Linked DNA regions of Homo sapiens: region 2 is linked to region 1. Evidence: fine-mapped expression QTL. A gene starts in region 1. The other region holds a variant in brackets. All regions are shown on one strand. Distances are from middle to middle.

Region 1 (9,473 bases):
ATTTGTGTAGAAGTTTCGCTTGTATAAATGTTGCGATGGATATTTTTGTATATAGATATTGGTTTCTATTTCTGAACATTTTCTTAGGATAAATTCTACATGTGTAATTAGTGGATCAGGTAATAACATTTTTAGTCTCTTGTCATTTGTTGCCAAATTACCAATTTACTGCTGAATTATTTCACAGGTATTCCTCGAGCACTTAGTATGCATTCCTTAGTTTTACTGCACTTCTTATCACCAGAACAGGAAAGGAATGGTGTCCTACAGCTCCTTGACCAAGTACCTCTCCACCAATACTATGAGCACTAAAGATGCAGCAACGAAGCACTAGACTCTGGGATGTGAAGATCTCAAATTCTATTCTCTGTGCACTTCAGAGTTGGAGAAGGATCCATCAAGTTTCAGTAGAATGTACCAAGGAAGGGAGGCAATGTGGTAGAATGGAAAGAATAAGGATTGTAGTTGAGACACCTGCAACCTGGACCTGCTAGTCCACCTACTGCTGTGTAATCTTGGACATTATGTCCACCTCTATGGGTTTCGGATCCCTTATCTGTAAAGTGAAGAGATTGTCCAGATGCTTTCCAGCACTAGCAATCTGTGCTTTAAAGTTTTACCTAACATACCATACCTTTTATCAATGTCCACCTAGAGATAATAACCCAGCTTATTTTATTTGAGTTTTGAGACAGGGTCTTGCTCTGTCTTGCACTCCAGCTGGAGTGCAGTGGCACGATCATGGATCACTGAAGTCTCCACCTCTGCGGTTCAAGCATTCCTCCCACCTCAGCCTCCCGAGTAGCTGGGACTATAGGCATGCACCACCACATCCAACTAATTTTTTATATTTTTGTACAGACAGGGTCTCACTGTGTTGCCCAGGCTGGTCTCAAACTCCTGGGCTCAAGTGATCCTCCCACCTTGGCCTCCCAAAGTGTTGGGATTACAGGTGTGAGCCACCACGCCTGGCCTAACCCAGTTTCTTAGATAGGGTCCCCAGCCTGTCATTTAAGGCATCTAAATTTGATGCACTTACTAAGTTGATGCCATTTTTGTTGTTGAAAATTATTCATTTTTTAAAAATAGTTATGACTTTCACCACATATTAATAAATCATTATCTAGTGAGCTTGGTTAAAGTTTGACCTCACCAATATTGCTAGTTAAGAAAATACATGTATGGCACTTTCACATACCTTGTGTCCTTTGAGCCTCGTTATTAAAATAGATGAGATAGGTTAGAAATCACTATCTCCGCTGGGTGCGGTGGCTTATGCCTGTAATCCCAGCACTTTGGGAGGCCGAGGTGGGCAGATCACCTGAGGTCGGGAGTTCGAGACCAACCTCACCAACATGGAGAAACCCTGTCTCTACTAAAAATACAAAATTAGCTGGGTGTGGTGGCACATGCCATGTAATCCCAGCTACTCGGGAGGCTGAGGCAGGAGAATCGCTTGAACCCGGGAGGCAGAGGTTGCAGTGAGCCAAGATTGCACCACTGCACTCCAGCCTGGGGGATAGAGTGAGACTCCATCTTGGGGGAAAAAAAAAGAGAGAGAGAGAGAGAGAGAGAGAGAGAGAGAGAGAGAGGGAGGGAGGGAGGGAGGGAGGGAGGGAGAGAGAGAGAGAGAGAGAGAGAGAGAGAGAAAGAAAGAAAGGAAAGAAAGAAAGAAAGAAAGAAAGAAAAATCACTGTCTCCTTTTTATCATGAGGAAACTGAAGGTCAGAGACAGAGGTCTAACATCACATGGTAGGTATGGGAAAGGAATACTGTAGCGGTCTGTAATTGCTTTTGGTTTGTGACTTCCCACAAAAAGGAACAGACCCTGTTCCCCAAAGCCCAGGTCTGCTGCTTGGCTTATGACCTACACCTAATAGAGTAACTCAGCCGTCTGATAACAGTGGCCCAATGGTTAGCATCTGATGCAGAGCCCATTAAACTGGAATTAATCCTTGGGAGCAGGGAATGGGGGAGAATTATTTCTGCTAGCGTAGCTTAGCAAATACAGCCATATTTTTTTGTCACATGGAGGAGACCCTTCTGCAGTAAGAGAGAATCAGGTGTTGGCCGGGTGCAGTGGCTCACGCCTGTAATCCCAGCACTTTGGGAGGCTGAGGTGGGCAGATCACGAGGTCAGAAGATCGAGACCATCATGGCCAACATGGTGAAACCCCATCTCTACTAAAAATACAAAAATTATCTGGGCATGGTGCCACCCACCACGGCCTCCTAAAGTGCTGGGATTATAGGCATAAGCCACTGCTCCCAGCCTAGGTGTTTCAAACATAACGTTAAAATAGAATTTTTAATTTTTCACCCCTGTACTAACTCTGTTCCCTCATCTTGGTAAATGGTCCCATTATCTATTCATTTGCTCAACTCAAATGCTAGAATCAGACTTATTTCTCTTATTCCTTCATCTCTACCATCACCCCTGCCCCTGTACCTCCAACTAATGCGGTCTTGATTCTACCTCCAAAGGATATTCTAGGCTGGGCAGGGTGGCTCACGCCTGTAATCCCAGCACTCTGGGAGGCTGAGGTGGGCAGATCACCTGAGGTCAGGAGTTTGAGACCAGCCTGGCCAACATGGTGAAACCCTGTCTCTACTAAAAATATAAAAATTAGCCGGGCATGGTGGCGGGTGCTTGTAATCCCAGCTACTCAGGAGGCTGAGGCAGTAGAACCATTTGAACCCATGAGGTGGAGGTTGCAGTGAGCTGAGATCGCACCACTGCACTCCAGCCTGGGCGACAGAGTGAGACCCTGTCTCAAAAAAAAAAAAAAAAGAAAGAAAAAGCCCTTTGGGAGGCCGAGGCAGGTGGATCACGAGGTCAGGAGATCGAGACCATCCTGGCTAACACGGTGAAACCCCGTCTCTACTAAAAATACAAAAAAATTAGCCGGGTGTGGTGGCAGGCGCCTGTAGTCCCAGCTACTCGGGAGGCTGAGGCAGGAGAATGGCGTGAACCTGGGAGGTGGAGCTTGCAGTGAGTAGAGATCGCACCACTGCACTCTAGCCTGGGCAACAGAGTGAGACTGCATCTCAAAAAAAAATTAGAGGGCAGGGAGGCACATGGCAGTGTCCAGTGTGGGGTCAGCCCCCTAAAGTTCTCTCTTAATTCAGGCCTCCCCTCCCCTCTCCTCGAGCACTGCCCTCATCTTTGAACTCATCACTGTTCCCCAGTTTCTCCCGTACATCCCAGTCCAGCCCCAGCCTCTGGAGTTATCTTTCTACACCATGGATCTGATCACAGTACACCTGCTTTACGGATGTCCAAGCCTCCTCCATGGTAAAGTCCTCCCTTCCTACCCCTTACTGAGGCTGCTGGGGCTTTTCTCAATTTGAGCCCCATCTACCGCCGGCCTCATTGGAGCCATTCTTTGAACTTCATTCATTCATTTGTGTCTTCAACACATGTTTTTATGTTTTTTCAGGACCTACCCTGGCTGGTACTGTGCTGGGAGCCGCTGGGGACCCCAGGCCCTGGCCGGTCCACGCTTCTCAGCCACCCTACACAGGCCACCCATACGTGCTCCCTTTTAGGGCCTGAACCTTCAAAGCCTCTGTGAGATACTCCCTGGTTCTGCCTTTCAGCTATCACTCCCTGCTCCGAGCTCCACACCCTTTACAAATGTTCATTAAAGTTATCTATATGGTATGTTAATCCATTTCTGAGAAAATAATTTTCTTGGTTCCATTTCCGTCAACGTTTGACAGTCCTCAAGGCCACCATACTCTCTGGAGGTCTTGCTTCATCCTCTTATTTTGTACAGAAGGCTTTTGTTTGGGATGTCTGCTCACACTCAAAGACAGAGAGGCCTTACTGTCTTTATGTCTGCAGTCTGTGGAGTGAATGAAGGATGCTCAGGGCTGACACCAGCATGAAATGTGATGGGAGAGGTTGGGGACTGTGTGAATGTGAGGAAAGGGAGCCCATCTGCCCCCCCAAGTACAACCCCACCAGTTGGGCAGAGTGATCCCCCCACCACCCCTGCATTGCTGTGAAATTTAGATTGGGCAGGGCCCGTTTGACCATCTCTCTCAATCTCAGGCTCTCCATTTTCAAGTGAGATGTAATAATATGCGTCCTGTTTACCTCTCAGCCTGTGATGAGAATCTAATGATTAGGGTGTGCTAGCACACAGGCACCTGTAAATCCCATTGAAATCTGAGGGCCCTATAACTCCTCTAGTGATTCCCAAGCCTCGTGCACCCCACCCTCTCTGTTCATCCTTACTTCCCACGTGTCCCGTTAGCCCTCCGGATGCAGTCAGGCCCATTTCCCCCAGGACGCCCGGCACTAAGCCGCCCCATCCAGCTGGGGTCTGAGGGGCCTGTCTCTTGCCCCACGCCTAAAAGACCTAACCCTCCTCCTATCCCTTCGATACGGCAGTCTTTATTTGCTGGAGTCTGCACAACATCACTGCCCAATGATGTGTCTGCTTCCACGATTCCCAAAGAGACTGAGCTTACTGAGACCAGGGCAAGGACCGCGCCAGTTCCTCATCGCCCCCTTCCTCTGCCTTCCCCTCCCTTCCCCCTCACCGCAGCCATGGCGCCCAGACCAAGAAAGCAGAGCAGAGGTTCCGCAATTCTTTTCTAAGATTGTCTGACTAGAGGGTTCAAAGCCCTCTAATCCAAGGCCGGCTTGTGTCTCTAGGGAGGTTGCAGAAAGGCGCCAGAATGTGGATGGCGCGGACAATGTGGGATACTGGAGTCTCGACTGCCGCGCGCCAAGGAAGGGCGTCACCTAGCCAAGCCGGCCCTGGAGTTGAGTGCCCCGCAGCCCGCCGGTCCACCCGCCCGGCCGCTTGCTGGCACCCTGGTGGCCGCGCCGGCTTTGTGTCGGCATCAGGTGCAAACCCCCAGAGCGCCGGGCGTGCGCGCACGCGCCCCGGAGCGCGCGGAGCCCATTCGTTGCCCCCACCGGGATCTCCTCTAGGATCTCCTCCGGCGCCCGGGGCCGGAGAGTGGGGGAGGGAGGAGGTCGGACACGTAGCCTGCCTCGCAGCAGGGCTCGACTCCACGCGGGAGGGCGGGGGAGCCGGGGACCCGCCGCTCCAGCCCGCTGGCCTTCGAAAGATCCTCCTGGGCCAATGGCAGGCGGGGCGACGCGACCGGATTGGTGCAGGCGCTCTGCTGATCGCTGTGGAAACTCGGGCGGCGGGGAACGCGGGAGGATGTGGAACCCGAGGCGGGGGGAGCCGGAGGGGCGGGCAGAGGAGGTGTCGAGGCCCTGAGCTCCCGGGGAGTTTTTACTGGAGGCAAAAGTCCATAGCGGGAGGGCTGAGGGAGGGGCGGAGGAAGGGGACCGCTTGGGGGCACTGGGAAGCCAGGGATCCTCCGCCAGGAAGGCAGGGACACTCCCGAGCGCAGGCGAGAAGGCTGGGGGAGGGGGCGCGGTGGGAGGAGTAGGAGAAGACAAAAGCCGAAAGCGAAGAGGGCCCGGGCTGCACACACCGGCTGGGAGGCAGCCGTCTGTGCAGCGAGCAGCCGGCGCGGGGAGGCCGCAGTGCACGGGGCGTCACAGTCGGCAGGCAGCATGGGGAAGGGAGGGAACCAGGGCGAGGGGGCCGCCGAGCGCGAGGTGTCGGTGCCCACCTTCAGCTGGGAGGAGATTCAGAAGCATAACCTGCGCACCGACAGGTGGCTGGTCATTGACCGCAAGGTTTACAACATCACCAAATGGTCCATCCAGCACCCGGGGGGCCAGCGGGTCATCGGGCACTACGCTGGAGAAGATGCAACGGTAAGGGTCTGGGGGCGCCCCAGCCACCCTTCTCTGCTGCAGGCGGAGTCAGGATCCCTGGCTCCCCGTGGGCCAAACAGACCTCCGGCGCTGAATGGAGCTTGGGACGTCCTGTAGGGAAGGAAAGTGCATCTATTGCACTCGTACCCCCTCCCCAATCCTCCTCCTCCTCTGGGCCGACTGGGGTGGAGACCGGATCTGGGACCCGGGGAGGCGGCGCTGCGGTGAAAGTCCCAGCGGTGGAGAACAGGGCAAGCATCTACCGCGCGCGCCGGGACCCACGCGTCCTCCCCTTCCTCGGGGTTTGTCTGGAGGCAGGGACTCCCCAAGAGGGGCGCTCGGGCCAGACGGCTTTGGCGCCCCCAGCGGGGAAGATGGCCGCCCCTGCGCGCCGCTGAAAGGAGCGGGAGCGCAGGCAGCCAGGTGTGGGACTCCGCGCTTGTCCCGCACTCTCCATCCAGACTGGGTGGCGAGAAGGAAAGCTCGTCCCCGGCCGGAGATCGCTCCTGCTGGGACTCTTGTCTAAGAAGTTCCTCAATGGCCACCTGGGAAAAACCGCCCAGCAGCTCGGGTTCCCACGCTCCAGGGATTATCTAGACTCACCCCAAGCTCGAGCCGGCCTTCTTGGGGACCGGCGTCCGGGATTGGTGGAAGGAGAACGGCCTGGGGTTTGCAAAGCCCAGGTCGAGTGAGGCCTTGAGCCGGTGGATTTAGCAGCACTAGACTGGCTTGGCAACAGGTCCGTCTGCACTCGAGGTTACTCTCGGGCGTTCAACTCAATGGCTCTCTCTTTTTAAATCCTGCCAAGAACACCCTTCCCTCATCTTGCACTCCTAAAGGTTGTGGGCCTCTCTGGAGCCATTGCTGCCCACCTTACCCCCACCAAATGCGTGGCTCAGTGATTACCCCGCACCAGCTACCCGCACCGGGGACCCCAGTCTGAAATCCTGGCATTTATTTAAGGATGCAGCTGGTATCCCATGGATTCGAATGGGCCAGAAGGAAAAGAACAGAGGCAAGGAGGGAAGAAAGGGCGGCTTTTGGTGGTGGTAGTGAATTGGATGCAGAGAAAAAAGGTCTGATGGGATACAGAAATTGGGGAAAGTGAATAGGAGAGAGGCAGAAAGGAGGGATGAACTTGACGTAGATCATTCCACCTGGAGGTCTAGGATGCCCAACTGTTGGTGGGCTTTTGCTCTCTAAGCTGTGTAGGCCCGACCCTTAACTTCCCCACCTCTTGCATCTCATGGAGACAGGCCTAGGGGAAGGCCAGACCAGGCCACCATAACCCAAGCTGGACAATGGACAGGTGGTGTGGGCCAGCAGGGCCAGGGCTTATCTAAGATTGGGAAGGTCAGCGATACTGAAATTCCCTACAGCTTTCAGTCCCATCCTGTTTTACTTGCTTGTGGACATTGCTTAAGCCCAGTGGGTTTGTGATGCTATTTAGAACTTAGGTGGGTATGTTTCACATACCTTCAGTGCTATCTCACCTGGACCTTTACGCGGCCCAGTGAGGAGGTTGGGTTAATGTAACTCCTAAGTAAAGGACCTTCTGGATCCTGGCTGGGATCTTTCCACTATATGTTGCTGGACTTGGGCTGGTCTGTTTCTGATTTCATAGGTAAATTGTAGAAGGTTCCTGTCCTGTCCAGGCCCTCACCAAAAAGTTTCCAGAAGGAAAAGTCAAATACGATGAATTTGGTCTGATTATTCCACATTGTTAAACATATTTTCTTATGTGAACGCTTAGTCTGGCAATTGCCTTGACCTTTCTGGTTTAATTACCATATCAGATTGATTTATTTCTTCCTTGTTCTGGATGTTCTCAGTGCTTACCTGACCTTAACACTGAGTTCCCTCCAAAAATCAGTGCTCACATCTCTCCTAACAGAGGACTAGAATGACCTACTCTTCCCTGACCTTTTCTCTGTCTCATAAAAATGTAATAGTCTCGTCATTTCTGGTCCTGCTCCAGCGCTTTCTGTATAACTTTCATGGACTATAAATCTGGTATCTTGGATGTTGGTTGCTTTGTTACTTTCATAAGCTAGGGTGGGAGCCAACCGGGGCTGCAAACAGATCTAGAATTGAAGAAAGATGTCATTACTGGGCTCATCCACTAAGTGTTGTCACTTGACTGAGCCCCATCTCCTCATCTATAAGGTACACCTGTACCTGTTTCAATGAGACTGATTTGTGGCAAAGCACCCAGCAACTGTAACCACTAGATGAATGCAATGGGGTGTTATCAGGCAAACGGGAATAAGAACAAGTATTATGAAACAGCTAGAATGGAAAGTATGCAAAGAGGAATTTGAAGAAAAAATTTAAATCTATGCTAGCTTTATTTGGTGTAGCAACACGTAAAAGCAATCCCTGTCCCCAGAGCTTCCTGTCTTCTAAAATAAGACTTTTGGGGCATGAAATACACGAACTGGGGATACAGATTTGAATGATGGTGATGATGGAGTGAGCAGCTGGGTTCTCTTTGTTTTGTTTTGTTTTTTTAAACTGTCCAGGACCAGGTTGGAAAAAGGCCTTGAGCAGCGTGGGGTGGGTGGGGCATGTGGAAAGGGGACCTAAAGAGAGAAGCAGGAACAGGCTACTGAAATCCAGAGACCCTTGCCTAGGCTGTTGAGCAAGTGGCTTTGCCCCTTGGGGTGATGGTTTGTCCCCCAGAGCATGGGGAGTGACAATTTATGGACCAGGCACAGTCTGGGGAGGGACTGATCAGAAGACAGTTTGGATTCCCTGCAACATTCCCAGGCAATGTTCTGAGCCCATCACAGTGCAGTCATTCCTAACACAAGGCTGGAAACAGGTCGGAAGTCAAGGTAGCCATTCTTGGGACAATCCTCGAAGTCAGGGAAGCCATTCTCGGGACAATCAGGGGCCTCAATAGGGCATTTTCTTTTTTTTGAAGAGCAAAAGATCCAGGTAGTCAAGATCCATCTCCCTAGAAGGATGGGGCAACTGTTACGTGGTCCTTCCACAGAAGCTAAACCCTGACCTTGCCTATAATAATGCAAGTTGCTTGATTTTTGCAACTTACAAAACACATTCATATGTATCACTTCATTTCATACTCGGATCAGCCCCGTAGGCATCTCTCACTGCTCTGAGGTATCAAACCTGGCTTAAGTGGCAGTGCTCAGACTTAAACTCAGAATCTGACCTCAAGTCCTCCCCTCCCAGCTTCCTTCCCTTCCTGTTGCTACCTCTGATCTCTTCCCTTTGGTACTGCGGTGCTTCTCTCGCCTTTTCCTTGCTGTGGGCAAAAGGAACCCTCACCCGCGCCCTAAGAGCGTGTCTGCTCTTTTCACAGCAGTCCCACCACTGCAGAACTGTTCATCTTCAGCGACAATTCATCAAACATTAATTGAGTGTCTCCATGGCTCTGAGCTGGGCCCAGACACAGAGATGAATTATTCACAGACAGAGACCTGAAGCTGTGGGATGTGCTCCCCCTGCTCTCTCTCAAGCTGGGGCTTGGATCTGGACCCTCTGCCTCTAGACATCAGCCCCCTACCCCTAGCCCTTGTCTCAGCAACTGTTCCTGCCCGGTCTGCATTGGTGACCTCTTAGAATCAAGGGAAGGTGAGAAGAGACCAGAGGTTTGTTCCACCTTTCAACCTGCTCCTATGTTATTCTTGTGAAAACGCAACAGATCGAAAGTGGAACTCTGGCCTCCTTTGCACGGGGCAGGAGGGTTGTA
Region 2 (11,513 bases), 30 kb after region 1:
CGCTGGCTTTGGGGCAGGAGATAGGGGTGGGAGGCTGTGAGGATCTGGTTGTTCAGTTACCAGCGGCGTTTGGAAGTCCCCAGCCAGTGCCGCGGTGTTCTGTGGAAATCCCCGCTCTCACACTCATGGGGAAAGGATTGGTGCTTCCTGGGTTCCTGGTGTTTTGACCTGTGCTCTGGCTCTCGCAGGACCCGGCCGCCCTGGAAGGAACCCTGGTCTCTTGACTGAAGTGACAGTGGGTCTGATGGGACTTGTCACATGCCAGTCCCACACACCACAGCAGGGCCAGGTGGGGCGGCCAGGTCCCAGGGCCTCAAGCCACCATCCCAGTCTCCAGAGCAAGGATGCCGGCCAGGGCTTCTATCTCTGGGGACAGATAAGCAAAGCAGCCCTGCCAAGCGGCTCCCAGCACGTGGAACTGTGAATAGCGCGGGCTCCGCAGTAAAGCCCTTTTCCTCGTTTTCTGCATTTTGGTCTTATTGATGCTGTCCAGGAGGATTCTTTTTGTCATATGTAGCAAAGTATATTCACTTTACCCAGAGATTCATTTCTTGTGTGCTTAGAAAGTTCTTCATACATATTATTTTCAGTTCTTTAAGGTTTTGTGTTTCAATCTTTAACTTCTGCCAAATGGGATATGGGTAGGATGATGTTCGGCCTTCACTTTTCTCCAGAGTCGGCCAGTTTTCCCGGCACCCCCATGAGGTGGCATTGCTTCTTCATATGAGGCAGTGAGTGCTCCTGAGCCCGGGCTTGGCCTGGGCTGGGCTGTCTGTCCTCTCCCAGGCCACCGTCTGGATGACTTGGGGGCCACACTCACACTCATTCATCCTTGGCACTTAACTCATTGGAAGCTCGTAGTGGGGTGCCTTTCCCCTTCTCTTTCTCTCTCTTTTTGTTTTTGTTTTTGTTTTTGAGACAAGGTCATGCTCTGTCACCTTGGCTAGAGCGTAGTGGCGCAATCTCGGTTCACTGCAGCCTCAACCTCCTGGGCTCAAGCCATCGTTCTGCCTCAGCCTCCCGAGTAGCTGGGACTACAGGCACCCGCCACCATGCCCGGCTAATTCTTGTATTTTTAGTAGAGATGGGGTTTCACCATGTTGGCCAGGCTGGTCTCGAACTCCTGACCTCAAGTGATCCGCCTACCTCAGCTTCCCAAAGTGCTGGGATTACAGGCATGAGCCACTGTGCCCGGCCAAGGTCTGTACTTCTTTATATGTCTCATGGATGTTTCTTTTAAAACGCAATCCTTATATGTTTTATATTTTGTCATTATGATTGGAGGTTCTCCAGTACTCGGGAAAGCAGTGGATATTGGGGTAGTTATCTTAATTTTCTTTTTTTTCTAAATTTTTGTTTGCATGGCCTTCCAATGAATGGGATAGTTATCTTTTGTCCCGCTAGTGTCCACTTACGTCTCTTCGTAATTCTAGTTGTGTTTCGGTTGATTCTTTTGAGTTTCCTGGGTAGATGATCATATCCTAGAAAATAATGAAAACGTAGTCTCTCGGCCCAGCGTGGTGGCTCACATCTGTAATCCCAGCACTTTGGGAGGCCGAGGCTGGCGGATCACGAGGTCAGGAGATCGAGACCATCTTGGCTAACACAATGAAACCACCGTCTCTACTAAAAATACAAAAAATTAGCTGGGCATGGTGGCACACGCCTGTAGTCTCGGCTACTCTGGAGGCTGAGGCAAGAGAATCGCTTGAACCTGGGAGGCGGAGGTTGCAGTGAGCTGAGATAGCACCACTGCACTCCAGCCTGGGCGACAGAGTGAGACTCCGTCTCAAAACAACAACAACAACAACAACAACAAAACAAAACAAAACAAACAGAAAAAAAGTGTAGTCACTCTTTCTTTCTTCTCTTTCTTTCTTTCTCTCTCTCTTTCTTTCTCTCCCTCCCTCCCTTCCCTCCCTCCCTCCCTTCCTTCCTTCCTTCCTTCCTTCCTTCCTTCCTTCCTTCCTTTCCTTCTTTCTTTCTAATCTGGATGTTGAAGTAGTCTCTTTCTTTCTAATAGCTCCACTCTGTTTTCTGCTTTGGGTTTTATTGCATTGACGGGAAATTTCAGAGCTGAGTTTAATAGCGGTGATATTGGCAGCAGCCTTGTTTTGTTCTTCTTTTGCCATATCCCCGTTTTCTGAGGGGGCTGGTGAGACCATTATCCCGGTAGCAGTGTAAAGGGGCCTCAGAAGCCGTGCGGTGCCTGAGATCCTCCTCCTCCTCCCATCCGGGAAACCACCTCTGCTGCTCTGACTGTCTGAAGCTAACCTCCTGGGCTTCCTGCTTGAGGCAGACCTTCATGAACAGGCTTAAGCCACCCATCCCGCCTTGGGACACACATGCCGCCCTCTCGGGGACCTTGGACTGGGACCTTGCCATTCTGCTCCTGCTGGGGAGGTCGTGCCGCCTGTTTCTCTCTGTGTGTGAGTTTGCAGGTTCCCAGAGGCAGAGACTGGGCTTTGCGACAGCTCCCCTCCCCCAACCCTCGATGGACAAGGAGGGCCCTTGTCATTCCTCAGACATTTTGTTCCAAAGCTGAAAGGTCCCCTCCACATGGCCCGGCATCCCCCAGGCCCTCATCCAAGCCTGGCCTTGAGGTGCATGGAGAGGCCGAGGACAGGAGAGTCAGCCCCGCCGCCAGGGCTGGCTGCACTCCCTCCCTTGCCCCTGGCCTGCGTCTCTGCCTGTCAACCGCAGCCTGGGAAGGCACTGTTGCTGATCAGGGGGAGGTCCATGTGTGCCACCCACACCCTTGGCCGCAGCCCAGCCAGGTGAAAGTCATGTGTCTTCCTTGCCTCTTGGGCTTTCTCTGTGTGTGTGACGGGGACTCCTCTGGAGGAGGAGATGTGTGGGGTCCTCCACTCCCCACACTTGGGGCTCTGAGCCCCCAGTTGGGAAGAAGCCTGACTCTTGTTGAGTGAGTCTGTGGACCGGGCACTGTGATGGGCAGTGTGCGTGCACAACGTCACTTAATCCTTGCTTAACCCGTGAGGCGGGAGCTGTCATCGACCCATTTCATGGATGGAACAGCTAAGGCCAAGAGACATGAAGTGACTTGTTCAAGGTAACAGCAAGGAAAAGGCAACACCACTGTCCGAACCCAAACCATCTGGCTGCAAACCACAGCTTCGGAGTCCTGGGGGCCCTTGTGAAATATGTTTGTTGGGTAGCCCCAGCTTTCTGATCAATTAAACAGCCAGGCACTCACCCCCCTAGCTTGCTACATTCTAAAATACCTCTCCCTCCCTTCCCTGGTCCCATGACTTAAACGGCAAAGCTCTGGCAAAGAACTGAGCGTGGGAAAGATGAGAGCAGAGAGTTAGCCACAGGGCAGGGCTTCGTATCCCAAACCCACAGTTGTACTTTCTGGTTTGGGAGGGGAGTATTGGCCATCCCCCAGCAGAGCCGCTGCAGCTGAGGCCATCGAGATGGGCACAGATGTGTAGTGGTATGTCACCATACGCATGTACATACACGTGCGTGACTGTGATGAGCATTTTGCTCACCGTCCCACAGAGGCCCACTCTGAGGCCTGCTGCTGCCTGGCAAGCAGGACCCCCTGGCTCCCGAGGGTCATTCTGGGGCATTGAAGGGACGCACACTAAAGCCAGCAGTGCTTACCAGCAGAGGCAGCCCCTGTAACCTGTGTTGTCCACCCACAGGCCACCATCACCCATGAGAACAGGGTGCCTACTGTGCACATGCAGCTCCAAACAGACTCCCCAGGTGCCTCCCAGGCCCCCACAACAGCGTGGCCAGCCCTCAGTCCCTCCATAGGATGCCCTGGCCCCTGCTGACCTGCCTGGGTTGCCCTCTGTGCTCACTTCCGAGTACAGCCGGCCCAGCCCGAGAGGGATGGGATGCTCTGTGGGACAGAGATGCGGTGGGGAGGAGCTCTTGAGCAGAGCTGGAGACACTGCATGCCAAGGCTGGGGCTATGAGCCTGCTCCCTGGCCTCTGGGAGAAGCTTAGAGCAGGACTCAGGGGCCTGTTCTGTGGGCCACTGCAGGCCCCGAGACTGGCCACCTCGAGAGCAACGTCTGCAGTGCTGGCTCCTCCAGCAACTCCGTCCACTGGAGACTCATGAAAGGCTCCTGTGAGGCCTCCCTGGCTCGGACCTCTCCATGGCCGGCCTCAGCCCTGGCCTTAATAATAGTCTTCCTGCAAGTGGCCGTCCTTTCTGGGAATGAGTGAGATCCTTGCCAAGGCTCAGGAGGCCACACAGAACAAAGGGACTGTTTCTGGGGGTTCTTCAGCTGGTTGTGCCGTGACCATGGCCATTGGCGCCAAGATGCAAGCCTTGGGGACAGGGTGGACCTGGTTCCCACCCACAGCCTCTTCCCTCAGGAATCCATGCTCTCCCTGTGATTTGGACAATCATTTTACTCACCTGGATGAGAGGGGCACTGGCCTAGGCATCATCCAAGGTCCCTTCCCTCTGTAACTCACTTTGACCTCCTGACTGCAATAAGTATGACTGGACACTATAGGAGGAGGCATCTCTGGCCTTCGGATCCAGGGGTATAGGGAGGGTGACGGGCAGTGTCCTGGGGTCAGCACTTGGCATTATGCCCATGTTCTCATTGGCTCCTCTTACCAACCACTGATTCAAATGCCAGACAAGGCTCAGCAAGGCTAAGCGACTCACATAGTCTCAGCACTGGTGAGAGGCAGAGTCGGCTCAAGCGCATCTGCTGGCTGCAAGCCCAGCCTCCCCACACTGCAAGGGAGAGGAGCAGGTGTCACTCAGTGAGCGGCATCTTTTGGTCTCAGTCCTGGAAGTGCAGGGTGGGCTGGTCCCTAGGGGCTGGACCATGGAATTAAGGGCTCCAGGGATCCCCTGGGGCCGTGGTTCCTATGCCTGGCATTGGACAATGACGATGCCCAGGACCCAGCCCAGCCCTCCTCCATTAGAGCCTCTGGGCATCAGGCTGCCCAAGGTGCAGGCTCT[G/A]ATGGGGAAGAAACCGGTGCCGTCATGGGGACCTCAGGTAGCCAGATGTGGCCTGAGGAGTCTGTGCTGTGGCCTCCTCTGTCCTCAAGGTTAGGCTCCAGCTGGGGAGGAGTGATTCACTCTTGTAAATTACAGGGAGGCTCCAGGGAGGCAGATGCTCCCAGCCTGATGACTGGCAGCAATTCTGGGGCCCTTACCTAGGTTCTCCCTGCCACTGCGGGCTCCGGGAGCTCTCCATGGTGACCTAGGAACTCCCCTGGGTGCTTATGCTCCGCCGAGAGTTGCTCTGTTGCACATTCATTCAACAAACATTTGTTTAGTGCCTGTCACATGGGCTCAGAGTCAGCTTTTTGGGTTCTGATCCCAGTCAGGGCCACTTCCTGTGGCCTTGGGCCATGGCTTAACGCTGAGCCTCAGCCTCAGAAGTGCCGGCCTTGTAGAGGATCGATGCCATCGGGCCAGTGCTCGGCTAGGGCTGAGGAAGCGTTGGCCGCTGCTGGCTGTAGCATGGGGAGCCCAGAGGGCTGGAGGGGCCCCAGGCTTGGTGGGCCCAGGGTGCAGATTGACAGGAAAGGGACAGTGGTGTGCCCTGAGCAGATAGAAGGGATGGTGGCTGCAGGATGGGTTGGGGAACATGGGAGGCTGGGAGCTGAGGCTACTGGGTGCTCATGATCTCTCCTCTCTCCTCAGTACGGCAAGAAGAAGCTGAAATACCTGCCCTACAATCACCAGCACGAATACTTCTTCCTGAGTGAGTGCTCGGCGCCCCGAAATCACTCTGGGACCCTCCCCTCCCCCCAGAGTGGCGTGTCTCTCCCTCCTACCTGACATCTTTTTCAGATCCAGAAAGTGACACTAAACTTGTTAGAAGCGGGGGCCACAGCAGCCTTGCTGTGCAGACCCCTCAGCCTGTGTTACAGGCCTGATGGGGACACAGAGGCTCAGAGAGTCCCAGGGGTGACACACGTCCTCAAGGGCTCCCAGCCTTCTCTGCAGGCCCCGGGGTCCCTGGCTGCTTCTGCCCACGTCTGCAGGGCTGGCCCCTGCACTCAGTGCTGGGCCTGGGTTCCCCTGACCTTCCGGCACAGGCAGGGTGGAATGGATGCCTCTAAGCGCCTGTCTCTCTCCTGCAGTTGGGCCGCCGCTGCTCATCCCCATGTATTTCCAGTACCAGATCATCATGACCATGATCGTCCATAAGAACTGGGTGGTGAGTTGGGGACACAGCTGGCTTGGCATGGGGAGGAGGGTGACTGGGACAGGGGGACCCGGGGGTCCTACGCTGCCTCCTCGTGTGCCCCAGTGGAGCCTGTGGGGCCCCAGGCATCTCCTCCCTGGGGTAGCTGCCTCTCAGGAAAGGACTCCCTCTGGGGCCACCAGGACCTAGTCCTAAAGATCTCTACTCTCCCTCAGACATAGGGAGTCCACTGGGGCAGCCCCTGCTTTTGCAGAGCCCCCGAGAAAGTTCTCAAAGGCAGCAGGATGAGAGGCAAGTGTGGCCATCTCCCTTCCCCGCTCCCTGTGGGCCCTGAGTCCCATGAACTGGGTTGCCCCACACCCTGGTTTGAAGTTGGAGCAGCTGGGCGTTGGCTGAGATGACAGGTGTGGTCGTTTGCGAAGACCGTATGACAAAGCACCACGAACTGAGTGGCATAAGCAGCAGCGATGTGTTTTCTCCCGGTTCTGGAGACCGGAAGTCCAAAACTGAGGTGTTAGCAGGGTGGATTCCTTAGGGCTCTGGAAGGCTCTGTTCTGGGCCTCTCATCGGCTGGTTGATGGCTTTCGTCCTCCCTCTCGGTACATCATCTCTCTGCATATTTGTATCTGTATCTGTGTCCAAATATCCCTCTTTAAAAAAATTATTTTGTTTATTTGTTTATTTATTGAGACAGAGTCACATAGGCTGGAGTGCAGTGGTGTGATCTCGACTCAACTGCAACCTCTACCTCCTGGGTGCAAGCAATTCTTGTGACTCAGCCTCCCAAGTACCTGGGATTACAGGCACCGGCCACCATGCCCAGCTAATTTTTGTATTTTTAGTAGAGATGGGGTTTTTCCATGTTGGCGAGGCTGGTCTCGAACTCCTGGCCTCAAGTGATCTGCCCGCCTCAGCCTCACAAAGTGCTGAGATTACAGGCATGAGCCACCACGCCTGGCCTATTTTTTAATTTTCTTTTTTTCTTCACCAAAAGTGGATTCTTGAAAATTTTTCCTTTTTTTTAAAATAGGGACATTGGTCATATTGCATTAGGGCCCATTGTAATTACGTCATCTTTTTTTTTTGAGATGGTGTTTCGCTCTGTCGCCCAGGCTGGAGTGCAGTGGTGCGATCTCGGCTCACTGCAACCTCCGCCTCCTGGGTTCAAGCGATTCTCCTGCCTCAACCTCCTGAGTAGCTGGGAGTACAGGCGCCGGCCACCATGCCTGGCTAATTTTTGTATTTTTAGTAGTGATGGGGTTTCACCATGTTGGCCAGGCTGGTCTCGAACTCTTGACTCGTGATCCACCCGCCTTGGCCTCCCAAAGTGCTGGGATTACAGGCGTGAGCCACTGCACCCGGCAGATAAATTGTTTATCTGAAAATTATCAAAGACTAAATTGTCACTTTCTGAAATGCTTGCTTAAAATCCAGTCTTTCTCAGCAGTCTATTTGTCCCTCATGCTCCAACCAATAGCCATGGGGAAGTTTTTCCTCTCTTAACCAAATGTGGACTTGTTTATTGATTACTGTTTTTTGTTTGTTTGTTTGTTTTTGAGGTGGAGTTTCGCTCTTGTTGCCCAGGCTGGAGTACAATGGCGTGATCTCGGCTCACCGAAACCTCTGCCTCCTGGGTTCGAGTAATTCTCCTGCCTCAGCCTCCGAAGTAGCTGGGATTACAGGCATGCGCCACCATGCCCAGCTAATTTTGTATTTTTAGCAGAGACAGGGTTTCACCATGTTGGTCAGGCTGGTCTCAAACTCCCAACCTGAGGTGATCTGCCCACCTCAGCCTCCCAAAGTGCTGGGATTACAGGCGTGAGCCACCGCGCCCGGCCTGTTGATTACTGTTTTATCGCTTGCTAACTGAAGTTGTCCTTTTCACCCTGACTGTGAATTTAAGAGCAGCCAAGTCAAATTTTATCTCCAAGTCTTGGACCCATATATCCAATCTAACTCCATTTGGAGGTGTCCCAGCCATTGCAAATCCAACATATTCAATGTAAGTCCTCTCCTCTTCTCCCACAACCTAATCCTGATGGTCTCCATGTTAATGAATGGCTCCATCATCCACCCAGTGGCTCAAGTTAGAGACTAGCACCATTATGTTTTTTCCCTCCTTATACATGTTACACCCTCTCCTTGCCTCTAGCATCCAATCCCGTTCTAACTCATAAGTGGCCTATTGCCGGGCGCAGTCACTCATGCTTGTTATCCCAGCACTTTGAGAGGCCGAGGCGGGCAGATCATGAGGTCAGGAGTTCGAGACCAGCCTGGCCAGCATGGTGAAACCCCGTCTCTACTAAAAATACAAAAAATTAGCCTGGCATGGTGGTGTGCACCTGTAGTCCCAGCTACTCAGGAGGCTGAGGCAGGAGAATTGCTTGAACCCGGGAGGCGGAGCTTGCAGTGAGCAACTTCTTTTTTTTGTTTGTTTTTGACTGTGCTTGTTCCCTAAGGAACAAAGTATTAAACAGGAAAAGAAATCACCCTATGTTCCTAAAAGGGGATGGCAGAGTGGGGACAATGTGATGAGCCCATGGGGCTTTCAGAGCCAGGAGCGCACCTATGACCTGGGGCACTGGTTCTCAGGGGAGCTGTTCTGCCCTTTGGCAGTATCCGGAGACACTTTTAATTGTCACAACTTCAGGAGAGGAGGGTGCTACTGGCATCTGGTGGGCGTCTAGCCAGGATGGTGCTTAGCACCCTGCCATGCCCTGGAGAACCGCCCATGACAACAAGCAGCCTGTCCCAGGTGCCAATAGTGTGGAGGTTGGGGGACCCTGGCTTAGAGGAAAGAGGTGACAAACCCTAAGATCTTTGAAGGAGGCTTCCCGGGGAGATTTACATGCTCTGGCAAGGTTCCCTGTTCCCGGGGCCACGTCCTGGATCCTGAGATGCTCCCACGCTTCACCCTCCTGGAATTTTGCTGTATCTGACACCACTGGCCACTCCCTCTTGCAGTTCTTCCTGTTGGCTTCCAGGTCCCCACCTCTGCTGGCTTCTTCCCAACCCCCTCGCTCCGCCTCTTTGGCTGCTTCTGATCTCTTGGGCTCTCTGCCCCTGAAACCAGCGATCTCTGTGTATGTGTTGCTCTCTACACTCAAAAGAAGTCCAGGCCAGGCATGGTGGCTCACGCCTGTGATCTCAGCACTTTGGGAGGCTGAGGTGGGAGGGATCACCTGAAGCCAGGAGTTTTGAGACCAGCCTGAGCAACATGGGCGAAACCCTGTCTCTACAAAAAGCTGGGCGTGGTGATGCGCGCCTGTAATCTACCTACTTTGGAGGCTGAGGTAGGAGGATGGCTTGAGCCCAGGAGTTTGAGGCTGCAGTGAGCTGTGATCACACCACTGCACTCAAGCCTGGGCAACAGAGTGAGACCCTGTCTCTTAAAAATAAAAGTTGGGCCAGGGCAATGGTTCACACCTGTAATCCTAGTACTTTGGGAGGCCAAGGCTGGAGGATCACTTGAGCACAGGCATTCGAGACCAGCCTGGGCAAGTAAGTGAGACCCCCCCATCTCTATAAAAACTTAAAAAAAATTATCCAGGTAAGGCCAGACACAGTGGCTCATGCCTGTAATACCAGCACTTTGGGAGCCTGAGGCAGGCGGATCACAAGGTCAGGAGATCGAGACCATCCTGGCGAACACGGTGAAACCCCATCTCCACTAAAAATACAAAAAATTATCCGGGCGTGGTGGCGGGCACCTGTAGACCCAGCTACTTGGGAGGCTGAGGCAGGAGAATGGTATGAACCCAGGAGGTGGAGCTTGCAGTGAGCCAAGATCACACCACTGCACTCTAGCCTGGGCGACAGAGCGAGACTCCCTCTCAAAAAAAAAAAAAAAAAACAGAAATTAGCTACTCGGGAGGCTGAGGTAGAAGTATGGCTTGAGCCTGGGACAGAGTCATGATCACACCATTGCACTCCAGCCTGGGCAATAAAGCAAGATCCCATCTCCAAAAAAAAATAATCCGTAACCCCATCCTCATTTTGTTTCCATATATGTGTAGATACACTGCACACTATTGCACCACACACACAGAATAGAAGGAATGTGATGGAAAGTGGGAGCAGAACTGGCTACATCTGCCTCCCTCCTCACCTTGAAGGCCACCTTATTGGAACGTGAGGTCCTGCCCTCGGCCAATGTTGGCCCCAAGGCCATCTCCAGCCTCTCCTGAGCGCTCCCTTCCTCCTTTCCTGTTCAGCTGCTGGCACCCGACCCCTGATCACCTAGGACCAGCCTAGATTCCCCACAGCCAAGCAGGCACAAATGCAGCCACCGTTGCCTCTGACAGTTCTGGAATCTGTCACCTCCTTGTCAGTGCCGTGGGTTCTGGTTTAGGCCTCTGTCATTTCATGTCTGAGCCGCTGGAATAACTTCCTAGTCTCCCCCTCTCCAGTGGGTGGGGATCTATTTTAAGACACAAATGTGACCTTGTTCTTCAGTCGTTTGAAGTGAGACAGGGCAGTCCCTTGGCCTCACCTTCCACCTCGGACACCTGTGCTGAGCCTGTGGCATGTCACCATACCTAAACTCATGGCAGGATGAGCGCCCTGGCAGTGGGAACAGGCCATGCAGAGGCCCCGGGGAGGGAGTAAGCTAGGTCAGGGGGCTGAGTAAAGACAGGTTCTTAACCCCATGAGGCTCCGTGGGTGACTGGGTGGGATGGGGGCTTTAGCAGGGGAGAGTTGGGACCTGCTTGGAGCGAAGGCCACTCTGGTTGCCATGGCCACGAGGACAAGCAGGAGACTGTGGGAAGCTGATGCTGTGGTCCAGTTGAGACAAGACTTGGGTGGCAGAGAGACAGTGGACAGGGTGGAGCCGTGAAGTCACCCTCCCAGTACATGAGAGAAGACGTCCAAGCCCAGTCCCTGACACCAGTCCAGCCAGAGGCAGGGAGGAGAGCAGAGTGGAGGGACACAGGATGACAGTGGGGCGTGGGGAGGCCAGCCTCTGCTGTGAGAGCTCTGAGATAGGGACGATGGTACCTCTGACCTTCCCTACCCCTCCAAGCCCTCTGTCCTGCTGGAAGGAGATGCCAGGAGGAGACCCAGGTGCTGAGGAGGAGGGACAGGACTGGGGGACGGTTGGGGACCTGGCCCCGGGTTGGGGGCGCACCTTCAGAATCGCCCTTGCCCCACGAGAGGGCTGCTGACCCCCACCCCTACCCCATGGCTGCCCCTCAGCAGGAGGGTCCGTTTCTCTCCCGAAAAACAGGGCACAGTCACTTCCTGATGCTAAAACACTCAGCATTTCCCTAGAAACAAAGGCAGCCATGCAAACCCCGAGCAAGCAGGTGGCGTGTAGTTGCCCATTGCATTTCAGTGGGCTGCGGTCCAGCTTCTAGA

Evidence for each region. PIP is the estimated chance that this variant, and not a neighbour inherited with it, causes the effect. A credible set is the group of variants that fine-mapping cannot tell apart.
Region 2: its variant is the best candidate, but not a certain one, in a credible set for the expression of FADS2 in testis (GTEx, PIP 0.65).

Annotation. Positions count from the first base shown.
Region 1 is chr11:61,822,843-61,832,315 of GRCh38, forward strand. It overlaps FADS2 (fatty acid desaturase 2), which reads left to right and starts at 5,458. Exons shown (of 12, transcript NM_004265.4): 1 at 5,458-5,755. The coding sequence starts at 5,549. LOC124902680 (a long non-coding RNA gene) reads left to right here. Exons shown (of 2, transcript XR_007062696.1): 2 at 188-1,130. RefSeq lists enhancers at 3,797-4,474, 4,475-5,152 and silencers at 4,744-5,183, 5,304-5,403, 5,424-5,523.
Region 2 is chr11:61,851,364-61,862,876 of GRCh38, forward strand. It overlaps FADS2 (fatty acid desaturase 2), which reads left to right. Exons shown (of 12, transcript NM_004265.4): 6 at 5,648-5,708; 7 at 6,091-6,167. Among named protein-coding and RNA genes, the nearest start is that of MIR6746, 21 kb to the right of the region's middle. RefSeq lists enhancers at 5,630-6,131, 9,885-10,385, 10,386-10,886. The variant G/A (reference allele first, on the strand shown) is at 4,958.